Linked DNA regions of Homo sapiens: region 2 is linked to region 1. The links come from fine-mapping of genetic effects on gene expression. A gene starts in region 1. The other region holds a variant in brackets. All regions are shown on one strand. Distances are from middle to middle. Region 1 holds the start of TOGARAM2 (TOG array regulator of axonemal microtubules 2). Region 2 overlaps TOGARAM2 (TOG array regulator of axonemal microtubules 2).

Region 1 (15,113 bases):
ATGAGAGCTGGACTCAGGAGTGTGAAGTTCTGAACAGTCACGGAGACATATTCTGACTTTAGAAGAACCAAACCATTCCTTTCCTTTCCTCTCCCAGATGCCTCCATCTTTATTAGGAGGGCTTCTTACAGGCAGCACCTACCCTTGTGATTTCAATTGCCATCTGATTATCGGGACTTCCAAGCCTACCGTAGAGCCCAGACCTCCCTCTCTGGAGCTGCAGACAAGCTGCAAGGAGGCCTGGATGGCTCCACCTGCATGTCCATCTTTATTAGCTTGGGGCAGGGCTGGTTTCCACACTGACCCTCAACTCGGCCACTCCTAGAGCTGGCAGTCCCAAGAGCCACTTCACCCCCAACTGCGAGACTGATGTCCACACCCATCAGACCCCCTGTGGGGGCATCCAAGGCCCCCCGCCACTCAGGCCCCTGACTCCAGCTGTGACTGGCATGTGGGGGCCAGCAGAAAGGCCGTTCGCAGATGAGAAGCCCCCCACCACAACTCTTTACCAGCTCTGGGTCTACCACCACTGCTGCAGATGGCGTCTCCTCTCCCATCGTGAGATCAGGTGGGGTTAATACTCCTGTAGCCACTCTGTTCTCAGACAATATAGGGTGCAGCCAGCCAGCAATTCCACAGAATGCAGACAAAGGGACAAACAGTGCCAGGTTCATGGCAATAATGCAGTAACTGTAGTGTGACTGAATGAATGAATTCAAAACTAAAGCACATTGGCCGGGTGTGGTGGCTCACACCTGTAATCCCAGCACTTTGAGAGGCCGAGGTGGGCGGATCACGAGGTCAGGAGATCGAGACTATCCTGGCTAACATGGTGAAACCCCATGTCTACTAAAAATACAAAAAATTAGCTGGGCGTGGTGGTGGATGCCTGCGGTCCCAGCTACTCGGGAGGCTGAGGCAGGAGAATGGCGTGAACCTGGGAGGCGGAGTTTGCAGTGAACCGAGATCATGCCACTGCACTCCAGCCTAGGTGACAAAGCAAGACTCCGTCTCATAAAAAAACACTAAAGCACATCTTCCAGACAGTCTTATTGAGAAGAACCTAAGTGAAGGAATTAACATTTCTTAGTTCCATTTTGCTTTGCGCCCGGGGCAATGTACTACAGTGTGCTTCCAAATACTATGTCATTGAGCTTTGGAAATAGAGAAAGAAAGTATGTATTTTCATCTTCATTTTATAGACAAGATGATTGAGGTTCAGAGAGGTTAAGTAACTAGGTTGAGGCCACAGAGCTACTAAGTAGAAGAGTCGGGGCTGATGGTTTCTGTTCACGGAGGTGGCAGTATTTCAGGGCATTCATTCAGGAGTCAACAGGGTTAAATTCCATCACCTGCTAGCTGTGTGACTTCAGGCACATGATTAAAGTTCTCTGAGTCTCCATTTAACTGCGAAATGGAAATAATAATATCTATCTCCAAGGTTATTGAGAATATTCCACAAAATATGAGAAACATTTAATAGGCTGATTGGGCCCAAGGGCTCGATCCACAGTGGCTATTAATAGTATTGGTTGTTTAGTAACTGTTTTGCTGTGTTCAGATGTTCAGGAAGAGGGGAAATGTCCCTTTTGAAAGCCTTTGGGCCAAGAAGCTACAGAGGCCTGGCTGAGGCTGGACAGCAACACGGAGGTGCCACCTTGTGCAGCAGGAGGTCCTTCCATTTCCTGAGCTGTCCAGGGTGAGCAGGAAGCAGTGGGCAGGCTGGGGCGGGACACTTACAACAGGGGTCAAGTAGCACGTTGCTGGGAAGAACCTTTCTTAACAGAACAGTCTGTTCAGGAGGCAGTTCACACCTGAATCTAATGACCTCCCAGGACAGGGCAGAGGAAGTGGTCAGAAACCCAAAGCAGCACTTCCCAACTGTTTTATGCCCAACGCAGCCGAGGAATGTGGCCATCCATTTGTAATAGCAGCTCAGTGTGGGTATCTCGGGTTGGGGGTGGATGGGCCGCAGCATTTAAAACATCCCCCCTCCACAACCCCAGGAAATTCTGATGTGAGAATTAACAGTCTAAAAGACATAGGAAAGCCTAGGGGGAGAGAAAGTTTTATTTAGGCTGTTTTTGAAAAACAATGAGATAAGTGACAAGCAGGGCTGCCATGTTTGATTGTCTAGGTTGGGCACTGCACGAGGGCATCCTAATTAAGGAGACATCTCTCACACTACATCTTTTTTTTTTTTTTTTTTGAGACACAGTTTCACTCTGTCGGCCAGGCTGGAGGTCAGTGTCATGATCTCAGCTCACTGCAACCTCCACCTCCCAGGTTCAAGCAACTCTCCTGCCTCAGCCTTGCAAGTAGCTGGGATTACAGGCATGTGCCACCATGCCCAGCTAGTTATTTTTTTGTGTGTATTATTAGTAGTGACGGGGTTTTGCCATGTTGGCCAGGCTGGTCTCGAACTCCTGACCTCAAGTGATCCACCCACCTCAGCCTCCCAAAATGCTGGGATTACAGGCATAAGCCTCACACTACATCTTCTCCAAAGTCCTGGCAATGTTGTTTTAGACGATGACTGTACATATTTGTACATTCATTTCAGTCTTTTTCTGATGAATAGAAGAAAAGTGTCTTGAGAAAGAGACATCTTTTTCTAATTCACAAAGGAACCATATGAGTGGGCTGTGGTCCTAGTAACAAAGCGTATGTAACTTATACACAAATTTACAAAATTCAAAATCTTCTGAACCTGCCCCCACCTTTGTGTATCGTGTTGGTGCAAATATAAATTAGAGATTAATCAGAACTTGGTCTAGTAATTTAACAGAATTTCCCATGCCTTTCTTCTGTTACTAAATTTCAAGCTGGAAGGGGCCTTGGAGGTCAGCTAGTTTCCTCCCTTGTAAATGAGGGGTTAATGAGCCGAGATCACACCATTGCACTCCAGCCTGGGCAACAAGAGCAAAACTCCGACTTAAAACAAAAACAAAAACAAAACAAAAAAATGAAAAGCAAAACAAAAAAAAAACCCCAGCAATTTAGTTCTGGAGGCTGGGAAGTCCAAGATCAAGGTGCCAGCTGATTCCACTCCTGGTGAGGACTCACTTCCTGGATTGCAGGTAGCTGTCTTCCCTTTGTCCTCACATGGCAGAGAGAGAGACAGAGAGCAAGCTCTCTGGTCTCTTCTTCTAAGGGCACTAACCCATCATGAGACAACCACCCTCACGACCTCATCTGAATCTAATTACCTCCCGAAGGCCCCACCTCCTAATACCAACACATGGGGGGTTAGGCTTTAACATTTGCATTTGTGGGACGCATGCATTCAGTCTATAACACCTACATAAGGCCATCAGGAGCCAATACCTATCCCAGGGCCCATACCCCTATAGGCATCACACTGGCTGCCAGCTGGCAAGGCCTTCAGCAGGACTGGGAGGAAAGCTTCCTTTTCCAGCTTCCCATCAAGGCCTCCCCAAAATGGTCACCTTGCCACTACAGTGCCTGGTCAGAGCCTGTGTAGTGTGCTCCCAAGGATTAAGGTTTTGGGAGGGGTAGGATACCACCGCATCAATCCTGCCTGAAATCACACAGCCATTGGCTGGGGCTTGGAAGTCTTCTGCTGGCCCTGAGATTTCCACCATCAAGGTAAGAGTTATCCTAGCACTTGATCATAGTCCTGGAGTCTCGAATGAAAAATGGCTTGGTCCACTGCCCCAGGAATGCCTTCTGCAGGGTTTGGCTGATCAGTTGAGGATTCCTGCCCAGTAGCAGGAGCTTGAATCTTCAAACTGTAGACTGTAAACAAGCACATGTACTCAGAGGATCAGAAGGGACTAGGAAGCAAGAAAGCATCTTGTCCAAAGTCTCAGCAAAGGTGTATTGGCATGACTCTAGCATCTGAATGTCTGTCACACCCCAGGAAAGGGCTCTTGGCAAAGGCCTCCCTGCAAGAAGCTCAGAAGACTTCAGACCCCGGCCCTGTCCCTTCCCAATGGCCCATGAGAAAGCCGACTTTCTTGAATAGGAGCCAGAGTTTTGTGTGTGCCTCTCCAGGACATACACCAGGTTTTGCCTGGGAAATATAAATGGCTTCTGTGGAGGGACATTTTTTTTTCTGTCTTTGTTTTGTTGAAGAGAAATCCAAGACCCAGGAAGGGATGTGAGTTGGGCCAAGAACCAGAGGTTTTAAAACACGAAATGGGAAACTCAGACTTCCAGACAGTGGCTCTGGAGCCTGGGTCTGTAATTCAAACACTAAGAAGTATGTGGAATAGTGATTGGTTCTCCAAGAAGAAGAATGGAGGAGAGGGATGGAGGAGTGGGGAGGGCAGAGAGAAAAATGGGGCTCAAAAGCCTGAGCACCATGAGGGGCTGAGATCACAGAGAGCAGAGGAAGGGAGGCACCCAACAGAGGAGGAAAGAGGTGAGGAAGAATGGCTGGGGGCAGATGCTCAACCCCCTGGTAATCAAGAAAATGCAAATGAGATGCTACCACCATCCCACAAAGATGGGCAAAAATTGAGATGGGCGGCAATGCCAAGTGCTAGTGAGAGCACAGAGCAATGGGAGCACTCATGACAGCTGGCAGGTGAGATGCAAATGGGCACAAACCCTTGGGAAAGTGGTCTGGCTTTACCTGATAAAGCTAAAAATGCACAAACCTAATGTTCAGCAATTCCACTCCTAGGAACCCACCCTTGAGAAAGTCTTGCACAGGTGATCCAGGAAAGGAGCTCGAGAGTGTCCAGAGCAGTGCCATGGATAATGGCCAAAATCTGGAAAAAATCTAAATGTCCAACAGGAAAATGAAGGACTAAATCATGGTGCACTCACAACATAGAATATTACAGAGCAATGAAACAAACGACTGCCCCACTCAACACTATGGACGATGCCACAGCGTAATGTTTAGTGAAAGAAGACAGACCCAAGAGACCACACAGGGTATGCCCCTACTTCTATAAAGTTCAAAGAAAGACAAAATTACATCGAGTGTTTAGAAATGCATACATAGGCCCAGCGTGGTGGCTCACACCTGTGATCCCAGCACTTTGGGAGGCCAAGGCAGGCATATCACCTGAGCCAGGAATTCGAGACCAGGCTGAGCAACATGGAAAAAACCCATCTCTACAAAAAAAAAAAAAAAAAAAAAAAAAAAATATATATATATATATATATATTTATATATACACACACACAAAGATTAGCCGGGCATGGTGGTGTGCACCTGTACACCCAGCTACTTGGGAAGCTGAGGTGGGAGGAACACTTGAGCCTAGGAGGCAGAGGTTGCAGTGAGCTGAGATCATGCCACTGTACTCCCACCTGGGGGACAGAGTGAAACCTTGTCTCAAAAAATGAAGCGAAATTAAATTAAAATAAAAATGCAGACATAGATGGAAAACTTGATAGAAAATCAAGGAAAAATTAGTAGCATGATTAACCCTAAGGGGAAGGGAGGCAGCTGTGATAAGGACAGGGCCCACGGGGGTGGGTTCTGGGAGGCGGCCAGTTTTTCTGTTTCTTGGCCTGGGAGGTGGCTACATGGACATTCACTTTATAATTATTCCTCACACTGCATGCATTTTATGCATTCTTCTGTCTGCAATAATAAACTTCCAGCCTCTGTGCTAGTGAGCAGAGTCTGGTGCCTCTGAGGTAGCCGTGGGGTCAATGGGAGGATGCGCTGCCCTCAGAGGCAGGTCTCTCCAGAGCTCAGGTTGACATCTCCCCATCCCTTGCCCCCAACTACCTCCCCCTTTCTTCAAATCTGTTAGTCTCAGGCTCCATGGGCTGAAACTGAGCCAGTCCTGGGAGCCAGCCTGTGGCTAGAAGGCTGCAGGGCCGTCTCCTGCAGGGCATTGGTGAGAAGAGCGAGGGACTGCCCAGTTCAGGATAGAAGCGATTATGGGCCCCTCACACCACTTCCTGGGGCCAGGCACCAATGCCCTGTGGCCTGCCTCAGTGATGCTCCGACAGAGTACGGGCCCCAGTCCCTCCCCTCCCAGCGCTCCTGAGGAAATGGCAGCCCTCTGAGGTCCCCCGCCAGCACCAGCCCTTGTCCTGGAGAAGTGACTGGCAAAACCTTAGTTTCAGGAGACTGAAATGTGCTCCAGAAAGGAACATGCCAATCTCCACCTAACAACAGCATCAACAACAAACAGTAACTTCCATTCTGCGCATGGGCTAACGTGCCAGCTGCCCTCCTGACTGTCTCCATGCTCACAGACAGCACCAAGGGGGCTTTTTTTAAACCCTTCTTCACAGATGAGAAACCTGAGGCTCAGAGAGGCAAAGAGCTCAAGTCCACACAGCCAGAAAGAGGGGGGGTTAGAATTCAAACCCAGAGCAGAGCCCCTCCAAGGCCTATGCTCTCACGGGGTGCCCCAGCACCCCTAAGCACGGGTGCCATCCCCACAGCATGCCCCCACCCTTCCCGGCACCATCGCCCACAGCACCCCAGGGAGCTGTTGCCCTGTGAAGGGTTCACCCTGAGGTAGAGAGCACTGCCCACAGAGGCCATGACTCGGGGAAGGGGTCAGCCCAGGCCAGCCCCTCCTTCCTTGGCTCCCAGTGCTCAGAGAACAGTGAGTCCAACCTCCTCCCCTAGAGCTGCCACATGAAGGCCCAGAAAGGGTCAGAGACATCCCCACGGTCACACAGCCTCCAAGTCACAGCAGGATGCTTTTTCTTTCTCTGTGTGTTTGTGCTTGCTCCAGTTCAGGTCTTTATCCCTCCCTCCAGGGACTTCAGGGGTCCTGACCCAGCCTCCCATTCACCACCTACAATAGATGGCTTGGTGGACCTATCGTCTCTCACCTCTCTGTCCAGAGGCCAAACCCCTGTCACTGGAGGAATCCAGGGTCCTTGGTCTCTATAGAGACGTTGATGCTCATGGGCCCAGGGAGGCAAGGACGGGGCAGCCCCAGGCCTGGCCCACCCTGGCCCCCACCAGCCACACAGTCCTGGGCCGCAGCCTCCTGTCTGAGCAGGGGCTGGGTGGCCACGAGCTCCACTGCTGGCGTGCTCCAGCTCTCAGCAAAGCTCTCCTTGAATAAACAAGGCTGCATAGCAACCACTCGCTGAAGGAGCCCATAGCTCCCTGCGCGGGGGAGAGACCGAGCCGAGAGATTTTCCCCTTGGTCTCATTGCCTCTGTGGCTCACCGGAGCACAGGCACTACCAAGTGGCCGACCTGTCCTCTAGGGTCATGGACACCACAGAAAGAGAGAGCACTGGGCCCCCCTGCCTGGTGACTGCAGCCAGGAAGTGCATAGCTGGCTTGGTGCAGGGATGTTGTTGGTAGAACTCCTGGTTTTGCTCACATGGCCTCTGGGCTCAATCTGCTTCTGTTTACTAACTCTCCTAGAGGCAGAAAGACAGAGTGAGCATCCAGGCCTTGGCAGCAGGCAGCTGGGTTTGAATCCTGATCCTGCTACTTCCAGCTGTGTGCCCTCTGGTCAGAACTTTACCTTTCTTGACCTCAGTTTCCTCATCTATAAAATGGGTACACCAATAGTACTGACTTGATAGGGTTGCTGTAAGGATTTCAAAGGTGCATGTAACAGCTTGTAATTTTGTCTAGCACTTGGTAGGCTCTCCATCACTTCCCCAGAAATCCTTGCAGAGCAGAAAGCCTGTGGCCTTCGTCCCAACCAGATTTCTCCACCTTAACTTTTGGAAAATGTGAATCCTAGCAGCCCATGTGTACTTTCTCACTGAACCCAGGCTCTTGGGCGGAAATCCCAGGCTGGCATCCTCTCTCTGGAATGACAGCCAGTCCCACTCCTCATGCTACCCCCTTCTAGCCCTCACCATCCAGGGGGCACACAGTGGAAGCCAAGGACTCAATTTGTATGCAGGCTTGCAAACAGCCACTCGCCCAAAGATACTATGAATTTTCCCAGGCAGCTCCTCCCCATATTCTGTACAAAGGAATCAGCAGGTGTGTGGAACACACAGGGATGGCTGGTGGGAGGCCAACTACACCCCACGAGGCCTGGGCTGCTGAAATGCTTGCACACGGGGTAGCTCCTTCCTGGGACTCTCTCCTCTTCCCTGAGATGGCCAGGGAGGGCAGGCCTTGGGAGTAGCTGCTGTCATTTACCAAGATCCAGGAGGGAGCAAGGAGGGCCAGCCAATTATGACTGAGAACAAGGTCCCTCTGGGGCAGGTGCTGGCCCCAAGCCAGAGGTCACAGCTGACAAGGCGAACGGAACTCCTGAACTCCCTGTAGCAGAGGCCCAGAAAGGAGACTCTTCCTCCAAACCAGGAACAGTGGCTGTGCGGATTCCCCTTGGGAGACAGGTATGAAGATGCCCAGGTGGGGAAAGAGAGGCCTGGCAAGTTAAGCCCTTGCCCCAAGCCACACAGCTTGTGAGTGAGAGCGACTCAACCATGGGAACCCAGGGCGGGGACGTGACAAGGCAGGTTTTGGTGTCCCTCAGCTCTGGCAGGGAGATGGTGTGTGTGCAGCTCCCCCAAAGCCCATCTGCATGTCGCTGCTTGAGTCGGAGCTTCTAGAACACAGATCCGATGGCCGTGCCCTGCTGGACACCCCTCATGGCCCCTGCTGTCCTTGGTGTAAGGGCCAGACTTAGCACCATGGCTGCCAAGCCCCTCTAATCAGGCCCCACTGCATCCTCCTTCAGCTCCTGGGCTCTCCACACTCTGCCTCCACTGGATGGCCGAGCATTATGTGTTCCCAAGGTGGGCTGGCCATGCTCTGTGCCAAATGCTAGAGACACAGGAGGCAGCACAGCCTGCCCTCAGGAGCTGAGTGATGGAGAGAGGCCCCAGCAGGTAACCCCCTGCTTGTTCCTGTGTTACCTGCAATAAGGGAGGATGGATAACACAGCACAGCCCTTAAGAACCAGGGCTCTGAAGCCCCTGGATTCCAGACTGGATTCTGATCCCAGCAATGACATCTTAGGCAAGAAACAAACTCTCTGAGTCTTGGTTCTTTCATATGCCTAGCAGGAAGACTGCAGATCCTCCCTCCCTGGGGTGGCTCCAGTGACCCTCAGTGTGCCCGCCAGGCACAGAGCACGCACTCACCCTCACTGTGACCATGGACAGAGAGCGAATCCCAGGGGCAGTGAGGTGTGACATCCACATGAAATCCCCGAGGTAAGGAGCAGGCCAGTCGAGGAGCATGGGTGGAAACCGCTGAGGCAAACACAACCTGAGCCCCGGGCCTCTGGGGGAGCCAGGAGCTGCCTGGAAGGATTGGGGCACTCCAGGTGGGGAGGGCAGCCAGGCTGCCACCTGGAAGCTCTCTGGAACTCCCCTGAAGAGACCTCAGAAAGAAAGGGACACGAATCCAGCCCTCAGTCATTTGTTGTGACTTCTTTTCTCATTCTAAAAAAATATTTTCATACTTAATTTTGTTTTCTTTCTTAAAGAAGCCCCCAAATTGTTTAAGCCTCGAGTCTCACAAAGCCTGTATCGACCCCTGGTGGAAGGGCGGCCAGACCCTCGGAAGAGGGTCAACAGCTATGAAGGAAACCAGATGTCACCTGTCTCCTCCAGTGCCCAGTGTTCCCAGTCATTGCCCCGACTCTCCTGGGTGTGCTCACACTGGCCTGCTCCCACCCCCAGAACCGATGAACAAATACTTGATGTGAATGAATTAAACTGACTCACAATACAGAATCACAAGCTGGGAAGAGGGCTCTTGAAAGTACCAAATAAGTAGCCCCCTCCACATCCACAGGGGATAGCCCCCATCTACCCCAGAAATCTACTCAAGATTTCAGAAACCAACATTCTATAACTTTCCATGCTGATGGATTTGGTCAGTGGAAGACTACTAAATTCTGATCCTGTTCCCTCAGTAAAAATGTCACCAAGAGTCCTCTTGGCCCTTGTTGATTTGTAAAGTGAACAAAGCTGTTTCTATGTCTAGCAACAAGAAGGACTAGATACCCTGAACACACTTCCCATTGCAAATGACCTGAGCATCCTATATCCAAATAGTCTCCTGAACACGTAGCTGGGCTATTAGCAGGGACTTCACTGAGGGGTCTTCTCCCCTTGCTCTGGGATGTAGCTGTCATGCTCCTCTCCTCTCCTGGCCTTTGTTCATGCTGTTCCCTCCACCCCAAAAGCCTTTCCCATATCCCTTCCTACCCCTTACTTATACCCATCTCCGGCCGGGCACGGTGGCTCACGCCTGTCATCCCAGCACTTTAGGAGGCCAAAGCAGGCAGATCACCTGAGGCCAGGGGTTCGAGACCAGCCTGGGCAACATGGTAAAACCCCGTCTCTACCAAAAATACAAAAATTAGCTGGGCATGGTGGCGCATGCCTGTAATCTCAGCTACTCAGGAGGCTGAGACAGGAGAATTGCTTGAGCCCAGGAGGCAGAAGTTGCAATGAGTCGAGATTGTGCCACTGCACTCCAGCCTGGATGACAGAATGAGACTCCATCTCAAAACAAAAACAACCAAAAAAAAAACACTTTATACCTATCTCCCTTGGCCAATTCCCACCCACGTGCTCCCAAGGGGAGTCCTTACTGACTCTCTAGAAAAGAGGTGCCTCTCATCTGCCTTTCTAGGGCCAGCACTTCCCTATCACAGCACCACTCATCCGCTGACTGTAACTGCCCGCCCCTCTCCTGGCCCACCAGCCAGCCACACAGACCTAGACTGTGAGCTCCTTGGGGGCAGGATTCATGCCTTATATCTCTGGAACCAGCGCCAGCCAGGTTCCACATGGGTGTTGAGAGAGCGACACCAACCTGACTGCACGTGGGGAGAGGAAGTGGCTGGCGGCATAAGAAGCCCCCGCCCCTGCAACATTCACCGCTTCTTCCAGGACCAGACCTGAGATCCAAGCTGCAGACCAGAGTCTCAGCCCCATACATTGTATGGCAGGGAACAGGTAGGGGGAGTTCTGACCCCCTGGGCTGGTGTTGCCCCCTTATAAACCAGGACCATCCCAGGCCTAGCTGGAGGTCAGATCCCAGGGAGCATGGGGAGCAAGGGCCCCTGGTAGGGACCCTAGGAGGTGGTATGCTCAGGCGCCTCCCCCATCTCTGTCTCAGGTACCCATCCCTCAGGATAAGGTGCCCCCAGGCTAAAGATGGTTAGCATAGGGCATGGCCAAGGGTTCCAGGCAAGTGGACAGAGAGTTGGTTCCAGTCCTGACTTTGTCACCATTACTGTGTGCCCTCCAACAAGTCCCTGCCCTCCTTGGGCTTCCAAACTGTCATTTGTGATCAGACACTGGGTGACCTCCTGGTCCCTTAGAGCCCTGATGCCCTGTGTCCTGGGCCCTGGCCCAGGCTGAGGAGAAAGGCTGGAAGCCCCCCATCCCTTCACAGGCCACGCCCCCCCAGGTAGAAAAGCGGATAATGGAGGCAAGCTGGCACTGCCTCCAGACTGACACTGTGCTGGCTTATCTCCCAAAATACCACTGCCCCACCCCCTCCAAGGCCAGCCCCAGCCTGGAGAGCCTGAAAGGCCCTGTCAGTACCACAGGCTGGGTGGGGGTGCTCAGACACTGCCAAGGACACAGAACAGGCCCCTCCCAACCAGCACCTGCCACTGGGCTGACGTGTTCCCTGGGAAGTTCCTGGGAAACTCTAGAATAATGTATGCAACCTAAGCACAGGATCAGAGAGAGGACTAGGCCAAGCCCCTCTTATCGCAGATGATGGAGTCACACAGGAATTCAGTGGTAATGACAGGATGGGGACTAACGCCTTCTGGTTATGCTGCTTCTGGCCCCAGCTGCCCTTCAGGGCTTCTCCCAACAGAAGCCAACCCCTCATCTCACATGGGGTGTGCCTCTCCCTCCTTTCTCCCCATTCCACAAAAGGACGTGTCAGAGAAGAGCAGCTCCCTGCCCCACAGCCACAGGAAAGCTCGAGAGATGGAGGGCAGGGGGAGGGGAGGAGTTAATAGGTGAGTAAATAACTCCAGAAGCTAATGGCAAAAAAGAATTTGATGGGTTTTTGTTGTTGTTGTTGTTGTTGTTTTTGAGATGGAGTCTCACTCTGTCGCCCAGGCTGGAGTGCAGTGGTGTGATCTCAGCTCACTGCAAGCTCCGCCTTCCAGGTTCACGCCATTCTCCTGCCTCAGCCTCCTGAGTAGCTGGGACTACAGGCACCCGCCACCACGTCCGGCTAATTATTTTGTATTTTTAGTAGAGACGGGGTTTCACCATGTTAGCCAGGATGGTCTCGATCTCCTGACCTCGTGATCCATCCACCTCGGCCTCCCAAAGTGCTGGGATTACAGGCGTGAGCCGCCACACCTGGCCCAGAATTTGATATGTTTTTATAAGAACATGCAAAGAAATAGGAAAATGTGTAAAATGCTCCTAAACTTCCACTTTGTAAAAATTAAGCATATGTTTCACATACTTATAATATGTACATATTCCTGTACATATATTGTCATTTTTTTAAAAAGCCTCCACCAGCAGGGCCCAGTGGGGAGCTGAAATTCCATCCCATCATCAGCAATGAGGAAAGGCATAGGGGTGTGAGGCAATATCCTGCTTTTGCTGAGATGGTATCAGCAAGGCCCAGTGGTGAAGCGAACATCCAATCCCACCTAGATCTGTGTGCTAGACCTAAACAGGATAAATGCCCTGCAAAAAAAGAAGACAGAAGAGGACCTAGAATCTCACAACACAATACCCAAAATGTCTAGGAGACAACTGAAAACCACTCATTATACCAAGAACAGGTAAAATAACTTGAATGAGAAGAGGCAATCAATGATGCAGCGCCCAGATGACACAGATTTGAGGATTCTCTAACAAGGATTTCTAAATAGTCATCATAAAAATGCTTCAATTTGCAATTATGAACGTGCTTAAAACACATTAAAAAATAAAATGTCTCGGCCGGGCGCAGTGGCTCGCACACTGGCTCACACCTGTAATCCCAGCACTTTGGGAGGCCGAGGCGGGCAGATCACGAGGTCAGGAGATCGAGACCATCCTGGCAAACACAGTGAAACCCCGTCTCTACTAAAAACACAAAAACATAGCCGGGCGTGGTGGCGGGCACCTGTAGTCCCAACTACTCAGGAGGCTGAGGCAGGAGAATGGCATGAACCTGGGAGGTGGAGCTTGCAGTGAGCCAAGATCGCACCACTGCACTCCAGCCTGGGTGACAGAGTGAGACTCTGTCTCAAAAAATAATAACAATAAAAATTAAAAAAATAAAACGTCTCAGCAAAGAAACACAAGACACAAAGAAAAACAACTGGAAGTTTTAAAACTAAAAAATACATAATCTGTCACAGGAGTAAAGGGAAAAAAAAAATTTAAGAAAGAAAAATACAATATAAATAACAGCATTAATATGACTATGATAGAGGAAAAAAATCAGTGAACTTGAACATAAAACCATAGAAATTACTCGATAGCAACCAACAGAAAAAATATAGACTGAAAAGAAATGAACAAGGCCGGGCACAGTGGCTCATGGCTGTAATCCCAACAATTTGGGAGGCCAAGGTGGGAGGATCACTTGAGGTCAGGAGTTCAAGACCAGACTGGCCAATATAGTGAAACCCTGTCTCTATTAAAAAAATAATAATAATAATAATACAAAAATTAGCCAGGCATAGTGGTCCATGCCTATAATCCCAGCTACTCAAGAGGCTGAGGCAGGAGAATCACTTGAACCAGGGAGGCAGAGGCTTTAGTGAGCCAAGATCAAGCCACTGCACCCCAGCCTGGGTGACACAGCAAGACCCTGTCTCAAAAAATAAAAATAAAAAAGAAATGAACAGAGCCCCAGGGACCGTGGGACTACAACAAAATATCTAACATTTGTATGACTGGAGTTCAAGGAGAGGAGAAAGGGTGTGGGTCTGAAAAAGAATTCAAAGAAATAATGGCTGGAAACTCTCCAAATATGGTAAAAGATACTAATCTACAGATCCAAGAAGCCAAGCACCCCCACATAGGATGAATCCAAAGAAATCCACATCAAGACACATCGTTAAGAGGCCGAGGCATGTGGATCACTTGAGGTCAGGGGTTCAAGACCAGCCTGACCAACATGGTGAAACCCTGTTTCTACTGAAAACAAAAAAATTAGCTGGGCGTGGTGGTGCACACCTGTAATCCCAGCTACTCAGGAGGCTGAGGCAGGAGAATCACTTGAACCCAGGAGGCAGAGGTTGCAGTGAGCTGAGATTGTGCCACTGCACTCCAGCCTGGGTGACAGAGAGAGACTTCGCCTCAGAAAAAAAAAAAAAAAAGGATATATTATAATCAAAGTTCAGAAAACTAAAGACAAAGAGAAAGTCTTGAAAGCAGCTAGAGATAAACATCCCATTGTCTACAGAGAAACACAATACAAGTGAGAATGGATTTCTCATCAGAAAGCATGGACAACCAAGAGAATGGCAGATTTTTCAAATATTGAAAGAAAAACAAATCTATTAACCCAGGATTCTACATTTTTCAAAAATAAAGACGAAATCAAGACATCGTTAGATAAAGAAAACTAAGAGAATTTGTCACAGTCAGACCTACCCGCAAAGAATGGCTAAGGGCAGGTCAGTCAAAGTGGCTCATTCCTGTAATCCTAGCACTTAAGGGAAGCTGAGGCAGGATGATACCTTGAGGCCAGGAGTTTGAGACCAGCCTGGGCAACATAATGAGACTCTGAGCTCTACAAAAACATTTTTTTTTAATTAGCTGGATGTGGTGATGCATGCCTTTGGTCGCAGCTACTTGGGAGGCTGAGGTAGGAGGATTGCTTGAGCCTAGGAGTTTGAGGCTACAATGAGCCATGATCACACCACTGCACTCCAGCTTGGGTAACAAAGCGAGACTGTGACAAAGGAAAGAAGGCAGGAAGGCAGGAAGGAGGGAAGGAGGGAGGGAGAAGAACGAAGGAGGGAGGGAGGGAGGGAGGAAGGAAGGAAGGAAGGAAGGAAGGGGAAGGGAAGGAAGGGAGGAAAGAAGGAAAGGAGGAAGGAAGGAAGGGAGGAAAGAAGGAAGGAAGGGAAGGAAGGAGGAAAGAAGGAAGGGAAGGAAGGGAGGGGCTAAGCAAAGTTCTTCAAACAGAAAGGCAATCATAAAGGAAGGGAACCATAGAGTTGCTGTCCAAGGAATAAGGCAGGCAGGTGAGGACAGGCTTGAGCCATCTGGATAGAGCCTCGGGGGAGGTGC
Region 2 (15,113 bases), 28 kb before region 1:
GAGGAGGTTTTCTGAGGTGAGCATTCAAGGGTTGAGTTTTAGACACAGTCAGTTGGAAGTATAATTAGGCACTTAAGCAGAGATATTGAGCAGCAGCTAAACATGTTAGTCTGGAGGTCAAGGGAAGGTCTAGGCTGGCGAGGGAGGTGTGGGAGTCCTCAGCATAGAGATGGTACTTAATGTCTGGACTGGATGAGGACCTAGCGGGTCAGTATAAATAGACGAGAGGCCAGAGGGCTGAGCGCTGGGGGAGTTCCAGCATCCAGAGGCCGGGGAGATGAGGAGGAGGCAGCCAAGAAGGGCTGGGAAGGAGCTGCCTTTCACGTAGGCAGGACCAAAAAAGAGCCACCCCTCACCCCTATCCCTGGCTGGAGAATTCAAGGATGAGACACAAGTCGTATCAAAAGCTGCGATGGGGTCAAGGTAGACAAGGACTAACCGTGGCTGCATTTGGGAAGATGAAGGTCATTGGCAACTCCAATGTGGGCAGTTTCAGTGGGGAGTGTGGACTAATGCCTGTCAGGAGTGGACAAAGGAGAGAAGAGAGACACGGCAATCATTTTCTCTTGGTTTTGTTCCGCTTTCTTAAAATGAAAGAGGTAACAGAGAGCTAACATGCTGATAGCAATGATCCTGTTTCAAGGAGAATATTGTTGATGCCAGAGAGGGAACAAGTGTTGGAACTGAAGGATTAGCTGGATTGAGCAGAACAGCAGGAGAAGGTGGTGAGCCAATGGGATGCTTGAAATTGAGACCATGGTGGGGGGACACACTTTAGAATGCCAAGGCCTACGATGTGGCCACAGGAGGGAGCGCAGAAGTGGGGTGGAGGATCAGCTCGTTTCGCTGCACTGAATCATTGTTTGTGTTTCCTGTTCTGTGGTCCTCTCTACAGTGGGAGGGTTGTGGTGCTGATTTAACAGTCACCCAGTCTCTAACAGAGAATATGCACCCAGGAGGCCTTCAAGATATGCTTCTTGACCTGGAATGTTCTGTCTCAAAGAATGAGCACAGGCTCCTCACTACAGTGACTCCCCAAGCTTCACTAAATTCGTTCCAACCAGGGAAGAGACCACCTTCCAAGGTCACCTGAGAAGTGTGAGGTATTCGCCAGTCCCTGGAGCACAGCCCGTGGCTGATCAGCCCTGAGTCAGCTGCCTCTCATTTGCTATCTTGGGTGTTAGTTCAAACCACGCAGCGCAGTTCACCTAAGGCTTCCTGCTCTCTCCCCACGTCCGGCTTCCTCGTGAGCCCTGTGCAACCTCCCCGTCCTCCTTCCTTCCTCCCTCCTACCCCTTCAGCAACCCTCTGCAGTCTTCCCTGCACCTAGTTCCCCACCCCGCTTCTGACCCCCATCCTTTCTCTTCCTTTCTTCAGCCTTCACCCCAACCCCGTCTGCAGGTTCTGGCCTTTAGTACTTGGGTGGCTGCCTCGGGCTCTCCTTGCTCTGCTCTGTGGCTGGTCCCACTCTTGAATACTTCAGACACTTGCTTGCCTTCCTGCAGCCTGCGGTCCACTCCAGCCCCACTTCCTCCTCCTCCCGCTCCCCAGGTACCTTGGTGCCGATCTCCTTCTGGTCCTCTTCTTTCAGCGGAGGGCAGGCTTCTCTGGCACAGTCAAAGGAGAAGGCTGTCAGCGTGGGAGCAGACTGAGAAAAAGGCAGGGCAGGCTTCTTGGCAGCGGCAGGCCTGTCTCTGATGGGTGAGGCCAAAGGTTTTGGCTCTGAGGGGTTGAGAACAGGGGTGGAGCTGAAGACACCCAGGTCACTGCTGAGCTCACTGACCCTGTGGCTGGCTCAATTCTACTGCTAAGCCCCACACCCTCAATTCTTCCTCAATGGAGCAAGACCTGAGTTAGGTTTACTGTACAGGGCAGCACTGGCAGGCATGAGACAGACTACCTGTGGACCAGCATCACCCTCCATTCGTTCATTCACTGCACACTTTATTCCAAGATAGGTGTGGGATTGGGGAGGCTGGGCGGGAAACAGGGCCAGATGTGTTATCCAGGAGATGTAAGACATTTCCTGAGAATATAAGTAAGTGTATCTGTCCTGGGAGGTACGTACGGCAGGAAAAGAAAAAGCAAAATGGGCCCACCAATCCTTTCATATGACCATGGGCTTGCCTGAAAGCATGACGCAGCAGGAAAGGGCAGAGTTGCCAGGACCAGAGATCTAACACTAGTCCAGTCTCATTTCACAGACGGAAAAGCTGAGAGCCAGTGTGATGGTTAATGTTAGGTGCCATCTGGATTGGATGCTTACATAGCTGGTCAAGTATTGTTTCTGGGTGTGTCTGTGAAGGAGCTGCCAGAGGAGATCGACCTTTGAGTCAGTGGACTGGGAGAGGAGGACCCATCCTCAGTGTGGGTGGGCACCATCCAATCAGCTGCTAGCTGCCATCGCAGCTAGAACTAAGCAGGTGGAAGAAGGTGGGATCACCTTGCTTGCCGGGTCTTCTGGCTGCCTGCTTTCTCCCCTGCTGGACGCTTCCTTCTACTCCTCCTGCCCTTAAACATCAGACTCCAGGTTCTTTGGCCTTTGGACTCTGAGACTTGCACCAGTGGCTTGCCAGGGGCTCTCGGACTTTTGGTCACAGACTGAAGGCTGCACTGTTGGCGTCCCTGGTTTGAGGCTTTCGAACTTGGACTGAGCCACTACCAGCCTCTCTCTTCCCCAGCTTGCAGATGGCCGCCTGTGGGACTTCACCTTGTAATCGTGTGAGCCAATTCTCCCTAATAAACTCCTTTATATACAGACATATATCCTACTAGTTCTGTCCCTCTGGAGAACCCTGACTAATACAGCCAGTAACCTTCGAATGCTCTTGGGATGGATAAAATACCCGTTCACTTCCACTTGATGGCATCAAATCCACAGTATTGCTTTGTCATTCATATCTTCCCCATCAGCGGATTTTAAAGGTACATTTCTCATTATGAAGGCAGGGCTCAAACAGGTTCATTCATTTTCTGCCACCCACAGGGTTTGGAGCTCACTGTCCTTGGGTGAACCTGCAAGTCAGGGGTCTGCTGAGATGGGGCCACCAGCTGAGGCTGCCTGAGGCTGGAAAAGGCATCTTACCTCTGGGGCCCGTGCAGAGCTCCCAGGTCACCCAGGTCCTCTGCCCAGGCCATGTCTTCTGCAAAGGATTCCTCTGCTTGGTGCAGGGAGAAGGATCAAGGGCCAAGGGGGAAGAGGGGCTTTGAAGCCTCATCTGCCCAGAGGTAAGAGGCAGAGCAGAGGGCACATGTGGTAGGCACCACCTGGCCAGGGCAAGGACTGCAGGAATGCCACAGATGTGAGGAAGCCCCCAGCTTCAGACAAGACCCTGTGAGCCCCTACCATGTGCTAGGCATGTTGCACACAGAGGGCAGTGTCAGCCCAGTTGCCAGCTGGAGGGCAGAGAGCCCTTTAAGGACTTAACTATTTTTTATGTCACTTCTTCACCTCCACCCCAAAGGGATGCCCTGGAAAGCCCTGTCTGAGCAGCCTGCCCCTGCCACAGGTCCCTGGTGACCTGGTTCTCAAGCAGCAAGCTGGAGAGCCAGGGGAGGAAGTGGTTACTGACTGGGGTCTCCTGGCCCAACCCCCACACCAGCGTCCTCCGGGTTAGCTCTTAAGGTCACTCAGGGTGCCGGTGCATTTCGCCACAGACTGCCTGAGCTCACCCTGCTGCAGCCTGGCCCGGGAGCAGGGGAGAAGCAGCTGCCGCAGAGGTTTCTTGTGCCAGGTCCAGCTTTGTGTCTTGATCCCAGGGCCTCTTGGGCAACAGCCACCCCCCTTCGCCAACTGCCCCACCAGCTGAGCTGATTAGCAGAGTGACCTGCCAGGAAGCTGGTCCTGGGGAGGCCACCCCTCCTGCCGGGCAGTAGAGCGGCTGCCTCCAACTCCTCCCCACCCTGGCCTGGGTTCGGGGTGTTCTGCTCCCCAACCCTGCAGCAGAGGCTCAGCTTCCATCCACCCGTCCCACCTCCCCATAGAGTTCAATCCAGGAAGGATCCCTCCTCCCTCTTTAAAGGCCTCCTACCCTGCCCTGTCCCCTCTCCTCGCCTCAATCCTGTGCTGGCCCTATATCCTGACAGCTAAAGCTCCTGGGGCCAGCTGGCTGAGGTTTGTGGGCTCTGGTTTACCCTCTCATTCTCTAGGTGAGGAATACTCTCTCTACTTGCTTAACACACCGCAAGGGGCAGCTGCTTGATGTGTCAAGACCCCAGCTTTGGAGCCGTGGAAACTTGGCTGCAAGCCTGATGGGGCTCAGCGACCAGGGAGGACATCCTGCTCACAGAGCCTTCGTGTGCCAGCTCGTCTGTCACACACGGCCAGAATTGTCTCTCTTATCGAGGCCGTGGCAAGCTGCACAAGCTGGTGTACGTCATCACACCTGACGTACCAGAGCAGGTGTCAATAAATGTCACTTCTCTTCCACACCTCGCCCGGGCCCGCTGCCACCCTCCGGTTAGACCTCCGGTGACTTCAGCTTCCTGCTGTGAAATGAAGGGCCCAGACACAAGAGCTCTCAGATCTCCTCTGGCCCTAATTCTGTTTCCCTGACCCAGCCCAGGAATGTAGAGAGTCAAATAACAAAGGGAGGTGTGCATGGAAGATACGTACCCAGAGATGCAGGGGTCTTCTCCCGAGGCCCACTCCCCCGAGCCAATCTTAAAAGAACGGGGGAGAGAAAAGCATCATGAGGGATGGCCAGCCAGAGACACTGCTGGGGGAGCCCAGGGTGGCTCCAGGATGGGGCAATGGCCGAGATGGGGGACAGAGGGGACGGCACTGTTATCCCTGCAGAGGCTCTTGGCCCAGGATTCAAGCTGCAGGAGATACAGCTCCCTCTGCAAACACAAGGGCAGGCTGACCACCAGGCCAGGTTCAGCCCCATTTCCTGGCAGTGCAGCTCGCGCATTCCCCAGGAGGCTGACACCCACACAGAAACTGCTGACTTAAAGGAAGCCCCCACCCTCCCGCTGTGCTGCTTGGGCCTGTGGAGTTGACAGCAGCTGCAGTAAACAAGGGTAAACTGCCTCCCAGCTTAGACAGCACTGAGCTCAAGTTCTCCAAGCTGCCCCAACCCCGTGAGAGCTCAGTGACCCCTAAATAGTCCCACTCGTGATTGTAATCCCCATCCCAGGGCCTGGGGGGCGGAGCTGATCCCCTTTGCTGTGGCAGGAAGTCACCACTGTTTTGTACCAGAAGCTCAATCCCAATTACCCACAGGAGGGGGAAGACAGTGGCATCCCTGGCACTGGTTTTAATTGTAATTTCTTAAGTTGGAAGCACCATTTACTTATTCAACAGATATTTACTGAAGACCTACTATGTGTCAAGCACTATTCTAGACACTGGGAATGGAGCATCAATAAGACATGACACTCCCCGCCCTCCGGGAGCTCAGGTTCCCATGGAGACCAGCCCTGCAGCGTCCTACATGGCTTTCCCTTCTCGGTGGACATCAGGACCCACTGGGGGGCTGACAGAGTAACAAGCCACAGCAACAGGTCAGGAACACAATATCCCACACACTGGCCTCAGAGGATCACAGTCCAGGCCGGGCTGCAGGAGGGGCGGTAGGACAGCCCCCCTCAGTGCCTGCCTGGATGCAGGGGAACCCTGATCCTTGGGGACTGTGGAGGTCAGGGGAGTCCACAGGAGGAGCGGAGCTTCAACCTGGGCGTAGATCAGCCGGGATTCGCCATTGCTCCCAGGGCCAGGCCCAGCCTCTTGGGTCTGGACCCACAGGGAGGGATCGTGTGGGCTGGAGATAGTAAGCGAATGCTCCAGGGCACCCCTGACCTGGGGAGCTCGCCCACTAGGCCTTTGCCATTGTAACCCACCACTGCTTAACCACTGCCCAACGGCACTAAGAGGATTGGAGGCGGGCGGGGAGGGGAAGTGGAGCATCAAAGTCCACACAGTTGCCCTTGGCTTCTATGAGCTCATGGAGGTCCCAGGCTGCCTGAGGTGAGCACAGGATGCCAAAAACCCCAATGCTTATGCCTCGGCTTTGCCCCTGGGGCCCTGAGCTGCAGCCTCCCCCGCTCTGCGCCCCCCCAACACACACACACACACACACACACACACCTGCTCTGAGCAAGGGATTTGGCCTCAGAGGACTTGGCGCAGCTTCTCTTAAGCTGTGGACCCTGGGGAAGCCTCTTGCCCTCCCCTTCTCTAGCGACCCCACAGCAGAAAGGACTGAGGCCAAGACAGGCCATGCCGATCAGGGCCCCTGCCTTCCTGCACGTGGCAGCCCCGCCCCACCCTGTGCGAACCTCACAGAAAACCCACCACCGCTCAGGCTCCTCCGCAGGCCCCAAGGAGGTGGGTGGAGCAGGAGCAGCAAAGCCCTGTTTCCAGCAAGAGCCCCTCCCGGCTCCAACCCAAACGTCTAAGCATGTCCAAGAGTGGCCTCAGCACTGTCCCCAGCACCTGCCTCTTCTCCTATGCCCTGTCTCCAAGAAGGGTGCCAGTATCTGTCCAGTGGCTGAAGCCAGGAACCCCGGCATGGTCTCAGCTCCCCCATCTTCAGCCCACATCTACCCCGTGGCTTAGCCCTGCCATTCATCCCGCCCCGCCCCCACCTCTGCATCCTCAGCCCACAGACTCCCTGCCTCTGCCCTGCTCAGCCACCCTTTGCCTTCTCCCCGGATTCCTGCAGCAGCCCCACCTCCATCTACACGGTCCATGCCACTCTGAGGTTGCCAACATGGCCTTTCTAAGTCACAGCAGATGCCACTTTCACACCCGAAAGCCTTTGGTGGCACCTCCTTACAGGAGGATGAAGCTCCCACTTCTCAGTTGGCACACAGGCCCTTCACCCCCACCCCGCAGGCTGTCACGCAAGGATGCAGGGGCTCACTCCTCCTTCCGTCTCTCCCTCTTCCACCTCCATCTCCATCTCGCAAGTGTGCCCTCATCCTGCCCTGAGAAGTCTGCCTGGCATGATTCAGATCTCTTTCTCCTGGGTCACCAACATGACAGGCAGCCTTCGCCTACGCACCCACCTCTCTGAACTTCACCTTGATGACTTCCTGGCTGGAGCACACAGATTGTGACCTATGCACCTGGCACATAGTAGGTGCTTAACAGCTTTTAGGTGAGTAAACGGACAGATGGATGACTGAAATGGTAATAGAGCCTCCATCCCCTCCATTGGCTAGAGAGCCCCACATTGTCAACAAAGGGAAATCCATGTCACAAACCAAACAGGAAAGGACAGATATTTATTACGGAACTAATCCATGCCAGGTACCAATCCTGGCCCCACAGAAGCCACAGAGGTTTTTGACATATGGCCCCTGCCCTGTGGTGCTCCAAGTTAAAGAACAGAATGAGGTTTAAATAAAATAGGCTGGCCAGGTGCGGTGGCTTCTACCTGTAATCCCAGCACTTTGGGAGGCCGAGGTGGGCAGATCACCTGAGATCAGGAGTTCAGGACAAGCCTGGGCAACATGGTGAAAGCCCAGCTCTACTAAAAATACAAAAATTAGCCGGGCCTGGTGGTGCATGTCTGTAATCCTAGCTACTTGGGAGGCTGAGGCAGAAGAATTACTAGAACCAGGGAGGCAGAGGTTACAATAAGCAGAGATCGTGCCACTGCACTCCAGCCTGGGTAACAGAGCAAGACTCCATCTCAAAAAAATATATATATTTTTAATTGGCTGGGTGCAGTGGCTCACGCCTGTAATCCCAGCACTTTGGGAAGCCAAAGTGGGCAGATCACCTAAGGTCAGGAGTTCAAGACCAGCCTAACCAATGTGATGAAACTGCAGCTCTACTAAAATTACAAAATGTAGCCAGGCATGGTGGCATGCTCCTGTAGTCTCAGCTACTCGGGAGGCTGCGACAGAAGAATTGCTTGAACCCAGGAGGCAGAGGTTGCAGTGAGCCAAGATCGTGCCACTGCACTCCAGCCTGGGTGACAGAGTGAGACTCCATCTCAAAAAATAATAACAATAAAAAATAAAAAACAAATAAATAAAACAAAATAAATAAACAAAATAAATTTAAATAATCAAGATTTGCTTATTTTGTTTAATGGAAGGGAGGGGCTGAGGCAGTCCCTGGGCTGGATGCCTGTGGACAATGCAGAGAAGACCACTTCCCCTCCTTGCCGCCCTTTAAAGGGAGAGTAGGTAGACATGGAACAGTGGAGATGAAATGAATGGGTGGGGAAAGGGGTGAGAGGCTGTTGGGGTTGCAGAGATGGACGAGGGGAAGCACCATGTCCCCTCGTAAATGGATGGATGGATGAGTGAAATGGTAATAGGTCCTCAGGGTCTGGAGGGGTAAGAAGGCCCCACAGAACAAGCACTGGGGGACAGCGGGGAGGAACTGTGGGGTCGTGGGCTGGATGGACCCTGATTGTCAGGCCAAGGAGACTCAGCATTATGCGCCTGGGTCCTTGACACAAAGGACCCGCCATTCATTCAATCAGGAATGTCAATACAGGCAAAG[G/A]GCCTGCAAGAGGTGTGCAAGGTGGCGGGGGAAGCAGGAAAATGAAAGATGGGGATGGAGCGCACAGGGCTGCAAGGATACTGGCTAGGCACTATTAGGGGAGGTCAAGAAGGAAGCGGAAGTACAAACCAAGAGGGAAAGGCAGGGGCAAGAAAGGGGTGGAGCTTTCATGGCTGTTAAGAAAGACTTGGGGGCTATGGAAATGTGTTGGAGCAGGAGGCACTAGGAGCAAGGGTCAAAGATGACACTGAGACTTGAAGGCCAAGAAGAAGGTCTGCACCTTGACAGCAATGAGGAGGTCTTGGGAGGGGGTGGTTTGGGGAAACACGAGGTGGTCCTTGTTGCCATGATGGTGGCACAACCTCCCTGTCTCTCCCTCTGGTGCTGGATCACATCAGCCAGGAGAAACTGGAGATGCCCAACAGAAAGATGGAAACCCGGAGCCTGACCTGTGGATGGTTCCAGGGCTAGAGCAGGAGATGTGAACTCACCCACATTCCACCATCTGGAAGACTTGGGCACACATAAGGGCCCCAGGAGAAAACAGGAGATGGGGGCAAACAGTCCTGGAACAATTTTGGGAATGGCAGAACTTAGAAATGGAAGAGGGCACACAGGAAGCTGCCTGGAAGGTCGAGAAGCAGGTATAAAGTCAGGATGCAGAAAAAGAAGAAAAATTCAAGGGCCATCCATGGTTCAAATGATGCAAAAAAGTCAAGAGTAAAGAGATAAGAGGAAAGGCCACAGGTCTGGGGCCAGTGAGTCATGAGAGGCACAGATAAGGCTGCTCCGAGGGGAGGAAGAGGCCAGCGTCTGAGTGGGAAAGGGGAGGACGTGTGCAATGGTGAGGAGGCGGAGGTCAGTGGAGCAAGCTGCTGTCTGAGGAGGCTGACGGTGAAAACTGAATAGAGAACTCGAATCCAGGAGCAGGTACATGGACGGGTCTCTATAACCCACAGGGTCGGAGAAAGACATGAATATGTGTGTGCACAGAGGGAAGGCACCAGGGAGATGGAGGGAATGAGGAAGTGTGAGAAAAATGGAAGAATCCAAGTCATCAGGCCCCAAGAAACGGGAGGGAAGCAGTCACAGCAGGAACTGGATTGTGACTCTACTGAAGGAGCCAGGCCCATAGGCCCTGAGCACACGCACACACACTCCACACACATGCACTCACACATACACATGCACTCACACACAGATACACATGCACACACATGCACACACACAGATACACATGAACACACATGCACTCACACACACGCACTCACACACATACACATGCACACACATGCACTCACACATACACACATACACACACATGCACACACTCCACACACAGGCACTCACACACACACATGCACACATACATGCACACATATACACTCCACACACATGCACACACACTCCACAAATGGCTTCACACACAGTCACACACACAAACACATGCACTCACACACATGCACACACATGTGGTCACACATGCTCACACATGTACTTACGCACATGCATGCTCTCACACACATGCACACACATATGCACTCCACACACATGCACCCCACACACACACACGTGCTCTCACACATACACATACACACACACTCCACACATGCACTCACATACATATGGTCTCACACACACACGCACACATACACACCCTACACATGCACTCATACGGTCTCACACACAAATACACATATGCACACATACCCCACACACACACTCCACACACATGCACTTACACACACGCACTCACACACATACACATGCACTCACAACATGCACTGACACATATGCACACACATGCACTGACACATACACATGCACACACATGCACTCACACACATGCACTCATACACATGCACACACAGATACTCCACACATGTACTCACACACACACATACACACATATATGTGCTCACACACATGCACACATGCACTCACACATGCACGCACTCCACACATGCACTCACATGCATGCTCACACATGCATGCCCTCACACACATACACACATGCACACACACTCCACACATGCACTCACATGCATGCTCACACATGCATGCCCTCACACACATACACACATGCACACACACTCCACACACATGAACACACACCACACATGGCTTCACACACGTAGTTACACAAACACATGCACTCACACACATGCACACATGCACACACATGCAGTCACACATGCTCTCACATACATGCACTCACGCACATGCATGCTCTCACACACGCACACACACACTCCACATACATGCACCCACATACATGCACGTTCTCACACATACGCTCCACACATGCACACACACGGTCTCACACACACATGCACACATACCCCACACACACACATGCACACACACACATATGCACACACACTCCACACACATGCACTCACACACATGGTCCCACACACATATACACACATGCACACATACCCACACACATGCACACACACACTGCACACATATGCCCTTACACATGCACTCACACACAACATGCACTCACACACATACACATGCACACACACCCATACACATGCACTCACAACATGCACTCACACATACACATGCACACACATGCACTCACACACATACACATGCACACACATGCACTCACATACATGCACTCACACATACACATGCACACACATGCACTCACACACATACACACATGCACTCACACACATACACATGCACACACATGCACACACATGCACTCACACACGTACACATGCACACACATGCACTCACACATGTACACATACACTCCACACACATGCACACACAACTCCACACAGATGCACTCATACACATACATGCACACACATACTCCACACATGCACTCAGACACACTCAGACACATACTCTTGCACTCATGCACACACACACTCAGACACACACACACATGCATGCACTCACACATATACACATACTCAGACACACACACTCTTGTACTCACATACATGCATATACTCACATATACATGCACACATACACACTCATACACATACACTCACACATACCTGCAGGCACTCATACATGTGTGCACACACAAAGACACTCAGACACACTCACTCTCACACACACGTGCTCTGACATCACTCTGGACTGACCACGGGGATGTTGCTGGCCATCTAGAGCACTGTCTTACTTACAAGCCATAACCCGATTTATGCCAACACAAAGATCCTCTTCCCCACTTGTTTGTGGGATATGAAGACCCCTTTTCAAGTCCAAAAGTTTGTGGACTGTCCCCCATACACATGATACTGGTTGTATTTTTAGTATCCATCAATTAAGAAAATATTTAATTACAAAGAGCTGCCATGAACTCAATCATGCTTTAAAATAGTGTTTTATTCATAGCCGGGCACGGTGTCTCACACCTATAATCCCAGCACTTTGGGAGGCCAAGGAGGGCAGATCACCTGAGGTCAGGAGTTTCAAGACCAGCCTGGCCAACATGCTGAAACCCGTCTCTACTAAAAATACAAAAATTAGCAGGGCATGGTGGTGGGTGCCTGTAATCCCAGCTACTCAGGAGAATCGCTTGAACCCGGGAGGCGGAGGTTGCAGTGAGTTGAGATCACACCACTGCACTCCAGCCTGGGCGACAGAGTGAGACTCCATCTCAAAATTATATATATGAGATAAAATAATTAGTGTTTTATTCATTACTCCGGCAACCTCATCCACTAAGGCACTGGGAGAAGACAGAGGCTGGAGACATTGTTCGTGATGCCATTGACCCAGCCTGCCGGAGCCAAGAGGCAGAGAAGCCCCGGCAACCATGCTGGGACCTCCCTAGGTCTGTGGCTCATGGGTGGAGCCCCCAGCCCTTTCCCTGCCTGGTGTCCCAAGAACTCTGCCACAGCATGGAGGGTCAGCCACAAGGAGCCCCAGTGGATCTCAGGGGGACAGAGGGAGAGAAGTCAGCAAGGAAGGTTTGACTTGGAGCTCTTACCGCGTGCGTGGGGCCCTCAGGCCTGTGAGGACTCCCTGGCCTGGAGGTAACGGGCTGGGAAGGGAGCCAGGCACACGGGAGGGGGTCGCTGCAACCGTCCTGGCCTTTGGGATGGGTGGGATCACGATGGCGCCCAGGGACTTCTGCATCTTCTCATCATTGCAGTGCAGGTATTGCCAGGAGATCTGCGCCTGGGAGCAGAGGCGGGACAGGGGTCTGGCCTATGGCAACATCCCATGGTGAATGCTCACCTCCAGGCACCTCACACAGTGTGGGACCTGCTGTCTCTTTTCAGCCACACCACCCTGGGACCCCCAGAAGCCTGACTGCTTCCTTACCACTCCTGGTGAGGAGACTGGCAAGCCCTTTTGTGACTATTATTATTCGTTTTTCTGTTCTCATTTCAGAAAAATCCTAGAACATCAGAGCTGGAAGGACCTTCAAACACATCTGGGCCAAACCTCTATTTTCATAGATGTGCAAACTGGGGCCCAAAGAGGGGTGTGACTTGCACAAGGTCACACAGCCAGTGAGGGGCAAACAGAAACCAAGGCCCAAATCTGAGTCCTAGCCCAGCATTCTTTGCCACACTCTTGCTTAAAATGGAGAGGGCCAGAAAGCAGGAGGAATTCTGGAACATTTAGACCAGAGAAGGCCTAGGGGACCACCAGTTCTAGGACAAAGGTCATGCAGCCTCTGGCACAGCCACCCAGAGCCCCCAGGCCAGCTATGGAGGTTTGAGATGCTGGGGGAGGTGGTGAAATGAGCACCTTGAGCCTCTCCCAGTGCTGTCCCTATCCTCACTGCAGACCTCAAGACACCTCCAGGGATGCTCAGGGCATGGAGTCAGGGGTTGGTGGAGGCTAGAAAGAAAGGCAGGAGGAAGGGAGGGCAAGAAGCTGAGGACCAGACTCACAGCAGTCGAACCACCTTACCTCCTGAGCACCGGGTCTCAACTCGTGAGGACCCGGAATGCTCCCCGGTAGGTCCAGGCCCTTCTCTTTGACTCCGCTGGCCTCAGGGGTGGTAGGGATGCTCTGGATGAGAGGCATCGGCCTGGGCACCCTCAGCAGCCTCTGAGAGGTGGCTCGGGGGATGGTGCTGTGCAGGGGAACTCCTTGGGGGCCTCCCCCTGGATCCAGAGAGGCTGTACAGGGATGGGGATGGGAAATCAGTTAGTCCCAGAAGAACAGGGAGTGGAAGGTGGATTCAGACCCCAGCAACGGGGCCTTCTGCCCTGGGAAGGACTGGGATGGCGAGGAGAGAGATCAGATCTGTCCCCAACCCCACCACTGGTAGACTGAGCAAGCAGCCACTTCTGAGTGTCTGTGCCATTCCAGAAAGGGCCAATCCAAGTTACCTGTTTAGAATTCAGAGGCAGCGTGGGAAGGAAGGGAAATAAAAGCAGTGCCAGATCAGGAGGAAGCATGGCAGGTCCTGGCCGTGGGTAGAAGCTATGTGACCTCGAGCAAGGCACTGTCTCTCTGAACCCCATTACACTTCTGTGAAATGGGGTGATTCAATAACATCACTTATATAAGATGCCAGGCAAGTACCTGCCACTGTTTCCCCTTCCTTTTCGGCTGGTGATGTGGGGCGTAGCTGTTTTGACACAGCTAACATAGTCTAAGACAGACCGCCACACTTCCAGCTCCCCTCTGAATGCTTTAGGTGCCCAACAGACATCTTCAGCGCCCTGTGCCCCACCCCATCTCACCCCACAGCCATGCCTCAGGCAAAGGCACAGGGCAAGAAGCACTGGGTTGGGCCAAGAGCTCAGGGTTATCTTTGTAAATATCAGTGATGAGGAATAAAAAAAAAAAAAAGACTAGCATTTTAACTTTCATTCTGGCCTCAACAAAACCACTGCATCAAAACAGCCAAGTCAGGCCAGGCGCAGTGGCTCACGCCTGTAATCCCACACACTTTGGGAGGCCGAGAACGGGAGGATCACTGGAGGTCAGAAGTTCAAGACCAGCCTGGCCAACATGGTGAAACCCCATCTCTACTAAAAATTAGCCGGGCGTGGTGGCACATGCCTGTAGTCCCAGCTACCGGGGAGGCTGAGGCAGGAGAATCGCTTGAACCTGGGAGGTGGAGGTTGCGGTGAGCCGAGATCGCACCACTGCACTCTAGACTGGGCAACAGAGCAAGACTCGGTCTCAAAAAAAAAAAAAAGATTAGCTGGGCCTAGTGGTGGTTGTCTGTAATCCCAGCAACTCAGGAGACTGAGGCAGGAGAATCACTTGAACCCAGAGGTTGCAGTGAGCCAAAATCGCACCACTGCACTCCAGCCTGGGTGACAGAGCGAGACTCTGTTCCAGAAAAAAAAAATTAAAAAAAAATAAACCAGCCAAGTCAAAATATCATCTCTGTTCCTGCACACTCGCTCCCCTCCTGGCTTCCGGTGCTGGTTCTGTTCTGTCTTGGAGCACTGTTGTGTTGTGGTTAGCCTGTGGGGAGCTGAAAGGATGGAAAAGAAGGGGTGTGGTCAAGTGGAGACTGTGCCACTTGCCGGGCCACCTTGAGCCCCAGCTGGGTCAGGGCACAGAGGAGTCAACTCAGCCTCAATGCAGGGGCCAGAGCAGCCCCAGCACTGCCCGGGGGCCAGAGATCCCCGGCCCTCCATGCTTGCTGAGGGGCCTGATAAGTCTATAGGTCACTGCCCATCAGAACATT

The links. PIP is the estimated chance that this variant, and not a neighbour inherited with it, causes the effect.
Region 2: its variant is fine-mapped to the expression of TOGARAM2 in whole blood (TOPMed, PIP above 0.99).

What each region holds. Positions count from the first base shown.
Region 1 is chr2:28,973,209-28,988,321 of GRCh38, reverse strand. TOGARAM2 (TOG array regulator of axonemal microtubules 2) reads right to left here and starts at 7,024. Exons shown (of 20, transcript NM_199280.4): 1 at 6,784-7,024.
Region 2 is chr2:29,001,004-29,016,116 of GRCh38, reverse strand. TOGARAM2 (TOG array regulator of axonemal microtubules 2) reads right to left here. Exons shown (of 20, transcript NM_199280.4): 5 at 13,370-13,581; 6 at 12,435-12,625; 7 at 4,616-4,662; 8 at 1,556-1,722. Among named protein-coding and RNA genes, the nearest start is that of TOGARAM2, 27 kb to the right of the region's middle. RefSeq lists enhancers at 750-799, 4,826-4,955. The variant G/A (reference allele first, on the strand shown) is at 8,465.